Homo sapiens: one gene and its partner. The protein of the gene in region 2 interacts with the protein of the main gene of each other region in a biochemical or structural test. Each region holds a gene or a part of one and is shown on either strand. Other genes may lie near its edges. The genes, in order: TRPV4 and MAP7.

The links.
Region 1: the proteins of MAP7 (region 2) and TRPV4 form a complex in vitro, tested with the Homo sapiens proteins (one study listed by BioGRID).

Annotation. Positions count from the first base shown.
Region 1 is NC_000012.12:109,784,622-109,788,398, forward strand, and holds part of TRPV4 (transient receptor potential cation channel subfamily V member 4), read right to left. Parts: intron 2,276-3,777; coding exon of another isoform or gene 2,255-2,275; exon of another isoform or gene 2,217-2,254; coding exon 2,089-2,216; intron 1-2,088. UniProt on the Homo sapiens protein: Non-selective calcium permeant cation channel involved in osmotic sensitivity and mechanosensitivity. Activation by exposure to hypotonicity within the physiological range exhibits an outward rectification.
Region 2 is NC_000006.12:136,347,573-136,351,629, forward strand, and holds part of MAP7 (ensconsin), read right to left. Parts: intron 1-4,057. UniProt on the Homo sapiens protein: Microtubule-stabilizing protein that may play an important role during reorganization of microtubules during polarization and differentiation of epithelial cells. Associates with microtubules in a dynamic manner.

The DNA of each region.
Region 1 (3,777 bases), on a different chromosome or scaffold from region 2:
GAGTTCGAGACCAGCCTGGCCAACATGGTGAAACCCCACCTCTACTAAAAATTAAAAAAAATTAAAAAAAAAATTAGCGGGGCATGGTGGCGGGTGCCTATAGTCCCAGTGACCCGAGAGGCTGAGGCAGGAAAATCACTTGAACCTGGGAGGCAGTTGCAGTGAGCCGAGATCACGCCACTGCACTCCAACCTGGGGGACAAAGCAAGACTCCATCTCAAAAAAAAAAAAAAAAAGACGTGTGTGTGTGTGTGTGTGTGTGTGTGTATACACACACAAAAAATTTGCCATCTTAATCATTTTTGAGTATACAATTCAGTGGCATTAAGCACATCCACATTGTGTGACCATCACAGCTATCTATTTCCAAAATTCTTCCATTCCCCCAAGCAGAAATTATTTTTTTTAACCTTCTTTTGAGACAGGGTCTCACTCCATTGCCCAGGCTAGGGTGCAGTGGCACGATCACAGCTCACTGCAACCTTGACCTCCCAGGCTCAAGTGATCCGCCCACTTCAGCCCCCCATGTAGCTGGGATTACAGGGATATGCCACCACACCTGGCTAATTTTTTAAAAACGTTTTGTAGAGATGGGGTTTCACTATGTTGGTCTTGAACTCCTGGGCTCAAGCAATCCTCTTGCCTCGCTTCCCAAAGTGTTGGTATTACAGTCACCACGCCTGGCCCAGATAATATTTCACTGTACACATAGCCCACATTTTGTTTATCCACTCATTTTTTTATATATTATCTTTTTTTTTTACATATTATCTTTAATTTTTTATCCTATCTATTCATTTTTGTTTGTTTGTTTTAAGGCAGAGTCTTGCTCTGTCCGCCAGACTGGAGTGCAGTAGTGCAATCTCGGCTCACTGCAACCTCCACCTACCAGGTTCAAGCGATTCTCCTGCCTCAGCCTCCCGAGTAGCTGGGATTACAGGTGCATGCCACCACTCCCGACTAATTTTTGTATTTTTAGTGGAGACAGGGTTTCACCATGTTGCCCAGGGTGGTCTCAAACTCCTGACCTCAGGTGATCCACCCACCTTGGCCTCCCAAAGTGCTGGGATTACAAGCACGAGCCACCACACCCAGCCAAGATTTGAGCTTTGGATTCAAACTGAACAGAGGCTGGGTGTGGTGGCTCACGCCTGTAATCCCAGCATTTTGGGAGGCTGAGGTGGGAAGATCGCTTGAGACCAGGAGTTTGAGACCAGCCTGGGCAACATAGCAAGAACCCCATCTCTACAAAAAAATTAAAAATTGGTCGGACATGGTGGCATGAGGAGGCTGAGGTGGGAGGATCGCTTGAGACCAGGAGTTGGAGGCTGCAGTCAGCTATGATCACACCACTGCACTCCAGCCTGAGCAACCCTGCCTCTAAAAACAAACAAAAAATGGAATTGAACTGATCGGATGGCCTAGGAGGTGGGTTCTATTATTGTTCCCATTTCACAGATGAAGAAACTGACTTTGTCTGACTCCAAACATTCTGCTTATGCTCCATGCTGACAACCACTTTACAATGAATGAATCAACTGGAAAGAAAAGATTCATGAAGGGGTTCCCCTAAGAAGCTGGCACTCCCTGTGCCTCTGGAACACGGAGTCATTCTGCAGATGGGCTGGGTGAGGTCTCCAGCCCTGGAAACTGCACATTCCTCAGCTTCCCATTTCACCGAGGGCACTAGAGCTCACCCCACTGTTTGGTAGATACAGGGTGATGCTCTAAAATGAACCCACCATCCAAGTCTCTGCTTCCCCCTGAGCAAGAACAGGGGAGCCTGTGGCGTCCCGATGCGCGTCGGGCACTGGCTGAGCACTTCTCACGTGCTGACCTGTCTAATCCGCACCGCCAGCCTAGGAGCCCGTGAGATCATTGTCTCATTCCACAGATGAAGAAACTGAGGCTGAGAGAGGTGGGCTGACTTGCCTGAGATCGCCTGGTGGAAATGAACTCTGCTCGGGCCTCTTGGGGCCTCAGTGGCTCCAGAAATTGCAATGGGTAGACGACGCTGGAGCAGCAGGGGCCCCGAGCCAGTGGGGACAGTTCCGCCCTGCCATCCTGGCCCCACTGCCCCAGCCTCACCTGAAGCACCACCTGCGGTCAGGAGTGCCGTCCGAGCTCTTGCCCACGGTGACCATCTCCCCAGAGCGGAAGGCCTTCCTCAGGAATACGGGGAAGGAGCGCTCAATGTCCAGGATGGTGGTGGCCCACTGCGGGGAGGGAGGGTCAGGAGGGACATCGGTGAGCCTCACAGCCTGCGCCTGCCGCTCTGGTGGCAGAAATGAGACAACGGGCCAGGGTGGGCCCAGAACTAGGCATTTAGACTCCTACTCCCCACTAGACACAGGGTTTATAAACTCAAATACCCACAGGTGGCAGGCAGGAAAACAAATGGGTGAAACAGGATCAGGTGCAGAAAGGCTGCCGCCCAAGCCCTATCACACTTACACAGCAGTTGCCTCTCAGTGAGGGAGGGGTAGAGACTGGGGAGAACAGGGAGCAAATGCCCACGTGTAAGGGGGCAGCTGCCACTCACCCCACCTGAGGGCTGCCAGGCAGGAATCCGGACCCTGCACTGCCTGGAGCTTCCAACTTTTCAAGAAAAGCCAGAAATCTGGGTTTTCATAGGGAATCTCTTAATTTTTAAATTTTGCAGTTTTTTGTTGTTGTTGTTGTTTTTAATATAATGGTCTGATGCTGGGTGCAGTGGCTCACACCTGCAATCTCAGCACTTTAGGAGGCCAAGGCAGGTGGATAGCTTGAACTCAGAAGTTCAAGACCAGCCTGGGCAACATGGTGAAACCCCATCTTTACAAAAAATACAAAAATTAGCCGGGTGAGGTGGTGCACACCTTAGCCCCAGCTACTCGGGAGGCTGAGGACAGAGAATCACTTGAGCCTGGGAGGCAGAGGTTGCAGTGAGCCAAGATCACACCATTGCACTCCAGCCCACAGGATGCCCAGTTTGCATCCTGTGAGTAATGCCCAGTGGGGAAACTGAGGCCCAATGAAGTAAGCAATATAGATAAAGGTTAAGAGCAGGCCAGAGCTGTTTCCCTCAGACCCAGTCCTGGGAGGACAACCTTGGGCCCTTTTTTCTCACTGCACCATTTTCCTGAAATGCACAGTCAAGGTAAACACGGGTGCTGTATTCCTGGGCCGTGGGGCAGCACTGTTTATTAGGACACCAGGTTTGTAGGCTGCACCTGGCCTGGGAGGGCTGTGATCCCAGGGCCTGTTCTTTCCAGGATTGCATAGAAAGCTTTTGGTAAGTAAAAACTTTCTGCAGCTCCCCGGGCCAAGGCGGCCCCTGTCCCCATTGGTTTCTCCTCTAGGAAGCATGCTCACAGTTGCTAGAAAAAGACCCCCATGAGAATGCTGACATCCCTGTGCTGGAGTGCTAGAGCACAAAAGCTGCCCCTGGGCTCAGCGTGGGACCCCTGCTGAAACGCTGATGCCCACGGAGCACTTTCTGAGCCGGCAGAAGTCACTCAGTCATGCTAGGTGGAGCCGACTGTGTCCTGTGAGCTGGACCACAAGGAGAATCTGAGCCCACTGCTGGCAGCCAGGCAAGAAGCCACCTCAAAATTCACTAGGCAGCTCTGGGAAGTCAGCAGCAGCCTCTGATGCCCATTTTACCGACAGAGAAGTGGAGGGAGAATGAGAAGACACTGCTTGCTCAGAGTGGAAGGCCGAGGAAGCCAGTCGGGTGGGTCTCCTCGGAAGGACGAGGGTGGCTGGTAGAGTGGGGCTGGGGGCCCTGGGGCCTCA
Region 2 (4,057 bases):
TTTTTGTATTTTTAGTAGAGAAAGGGTTTCTTCGTGTTGGCCAGGATGGTCTCGAACTCCTGGCCTCGAGTGATCTGCCCCCATCGGCCTCCCAAAGTGCTGGGATTACAGCCATGAGCCACCACGCCCAGTCAAAATAGTTTACTTTCTCTACTGAGTGAGAAGTATTGACTTTGGAACACATACTAAAGCATTTCTGATTTGAATATTTGTGTATTTTTAAAATTATTAAACCTTCCTTTTTTACGGAAAAAATGAAGATGCCTGTCCTAAGTGTCTCACAAGGCATTGCAGAATACACTGAAAACATTATTTGTAAAATAATCTGAAATATTATACAGTGTGATGATGCTTTTCTGCTATTTTACTAAGAAGGGAAGGGAATGCCACTAGGCATTATAAGTCTCCACAAGAGTACAGTCACACACATGTGCACATGCCCCCCCCCCCAAGTCACGTGTGCACACACATGCCTAACATCTACTGTTCTAAGTGCCTGGGCTGCCACACCCATCTTCCTGTTCTTGCCTAACACCAACAGCCTTTCTGTAACTAGGGAAACAATTTTGGTTCTTAATACAGAGAGAATTTAAGTAGAAGTCCTGGCAAAGGATAAAGAACAGGAACGTATCTCCAGAGCCCCCTTTCCTTGGCAACCTTAACCTGTCACCTTCCAGGCCTGCATGTACTAACAAGTCATAATGGCAATGGCTAACCCCAGACTTGAGCCAGTATCAGATTTCATTTCCCCTCCACCTGCCCATTCTACCTGCTGGCAATCAGAGGGATAATTGTGCCATATGCATTGGATGACAAGTCATGAAATGTTCAGGGGACATCGGGACTGGTAGAAACTATAAAACTGAAACTGAAGTACTGGGGTTAAGGAGTATGGATCCGTGTGTCCACTCAGAATAAGAGCACCAGCTTCTGAATTCCCTGCCTTCAGTTACCTTCTGAAGTTTGAAGACTGATGTAAGACTTTTGAAGACCGCACGCTTTGCTCCAGTCCAAAATGTGTACAGGCAGGGGTTGGGACCTTGGCAAGAATCTGCAGTCCACACAGCTTATGGAAGCCAGAACCTTATTTTCTCTTGATATTTATTAATTATGTTAAAACAAGTAACTTTTAAATTAAAAGGGATACATCTCTTCCTGTGTGAACAATAGGGGCCTGGGAATGTTACTTTTCCTTCAGGCCAAACTAAGAGCAATGATGAACTCAAGATTTGGAGGGAAAATGAATGGGTCAAACACCAAAATTACCAAAAACTTCTTATTTAAAAAAAAAGACGAACATTCTACGAAAAGACAGCTCCCCTACGGCAATGAACAAACATGAAATGTCTTCTGGAGTATTAGGAGGGTAAGGCAGTATCTGTATAGGCAGCAGAGCTTCTTAGCCTCTGGACTAGAGATTCTCAGCTAGGGGTAGAAGAACATCTCAGAATGACCTGAGAAACTGCAGATAACTTCCTCTGTTCCCATTCTGATATTCACCCCTGTCCTCCCCGACTTGTATTCATATGGATCCGTATCCTTTGTTTCCTGTTCCAAAGCAAGTTTCCTATCCATGGACAAATATTTTCCTCAATTCCTGTGGAACATCCCTCCACAAGTACTCTCTCTTAAGAACCAAACATGGCTTTTGAGTAAGAATGATCAGCTCAAGGGCATATATAATATTCATATATTTCATAAAGATATATTTCAAGTATTTTATAAACGTCGTATATCTTACATAGGAAAATGTATATATTCATTTATAAAATTTTATAAAATCCATATATGTTATTAATATATATTCATATATTTCTTTGAGACAGGGTCTCACTCTGTTGCCCAAGCTGGAGTGCAGTGGTGCAATCACGGCTTACTGCAGCTTCAATTCCCTGGGCTCAGGCGATCCTCCCGCCTCAGCCTCCCGCGTATCTGGGACTACAGATGCATGCCACTGCCCTCGGCTGATCTTTGTATTTTTTGTAGAGACGGGATCTTGCCATGTTGCTAGCTGGTCTTGAACTCCTGGGCTCAAGTGATCTGCTTGCCTAGACCTGCTAAAGTGCTGGGATTACAGGCGTGAGCCACCACACTTGGCATATTCACATATTTCTGTATACCTTTAAAATCTGGCCAGAATTGTGATAACTCAAACCCTCTTCCATTCTAACTAATGTCAGTGGGGAACCTGTCAGGGGGAAAAGAGATGGGCAAGAAAAATGGCTTTGGGGCAAAGGGGCCAGGCGTCTCACTCAGGAGTAAGGTGAGGAGTAGGGTTCAGGATACTTCTGGTACAGAGTTGTTCTATAACAAAGGGTCTCAGTCCTAGCTGCTAGGAAAAGTAATGTTAGGGGGTCGCCATCCTCCTGGGGTGCTGCTAGACAGTTTGCTGAAATATCTCAAGGTGGGGAGGAGCAAATGTAATTTAGTTCACAGCATTCATTTATTTACGAATATATTAGGTACTAAAGACATTAGGAAAAGTGATACTTCTCTCTCAATTTGAATGAAAAGATAGTCATTCTGAGCAGTGGAGTTTTCTAGCAAAAATAAATTCTACCACTATACTTGCATGATCTGTCATGATGGATTTTCATGGAGTATCAGGCACACCATGTTCTTTGGCAGGGACCCCGAGCATTTCCATTAATCAGTGATTTAATTCACAGTGGGCAAGCTGGAGGGATCTATAACTCTACTTGAGGTGCAAAGTAGGGTATTTAATAAAGATACTGACTGATCACAAGGATCATGGAATGCCTCACTAAAAATAATGCACTGAGATGAAAACCAAAGATTTTATAAGCATTTTAAGGTTGATTTGAAACTAGGAGTGAAAGGAAATATTTATGGATGTGATTTGTCATTTAAAGTTTTTAACAGAATTTCAGATGTAAAACTGTTTAAAAACCTGAGTTTCCACTGCATCAAAGGGAATGTTTATTCATGAATGGGAAGCTGTTTTGGGGATGGATTTTAAAGACAAGAATAGGCTGGGCGTGGTGACTCACGCCTGTAATCCCAACACTTCAGGAGGCCAAGGTGGGATGACTGCTTAAGGCCAGAGGCCAAGAGTTTGAGACTAGCCTGGGCAACACAGGGAGACCTAATCTCTATAAAAATATATATGTTTTAAATTAGCTGGGTGTGGTGGCTCGCACCTGTAGTCCCAGCTACTCAGGAGGCTGGGGTGGGAGGATCATTTGAGCCAGGAGGTAGAGGCTGCAGTGAGCCATGCTCGTACCACTGCACTCCAGGCTTGGTGACAGAGCAAGACTCTGTTTTATAAAATAAAAATAAAACAAAATAAAGACAGGAATAAGCAAGCCCTTCTCTAGATGGAAGAGTTTAAGTGGCAGAGAGCCCCAGGGATCAGTGCTAGGTTTAGTTTTATAATAATCGGAAGACAAGCAGGATAAAATTTAAGTATGCAGATAATGTTTATTCTTGGAAATGCAAGTCATAAAAATAGCCCCTCGAGAAAACAGGGAAAATCATGAAATGAGTGACAAGGCAGGCAGTCTGTAAAAGCAGTGGGTTTAGAAAACTGTCAGCTGAGCTATCCTTAAAAGACAGTGAATGATCAGTCACAATGGAGGTTAAGACATCTTGGGATCACTGCAAACTGTTCCTTGGTGATACTGACTCCTTGTGTTTTGATGGTAAAAAAAAAAAAAAAAACGAAAAAACAAAAAAAAGCCAATAAAATGCTAGGCAGGAGAAGATGGGATACCAGGAACAAACCAAAAGCATTATTTTACATCACACTGCAGCTACACCTAGTGTACTGTGTGTTTTCTGGACACTGCATTCATTTTAGGAGGATAAAGATAATGATATGTAACATTCATATAGTACAACAGTTTTTGGAACTCCTTCACAGATAGCATTTCACTGAACCTCCCAATACTTTGTGTGGAAAGTATCTCCATGTCCAGATGAGAAAACTAAGGTTTAATTAAGTAGGTTAACCCCACAGTTGCTGAACTTCTCAAAGGTAAAACTAGGGATCCAGCCTGGAACTTTTGGTTCTGAAGCTCTTTTTCCTCAACCCCAT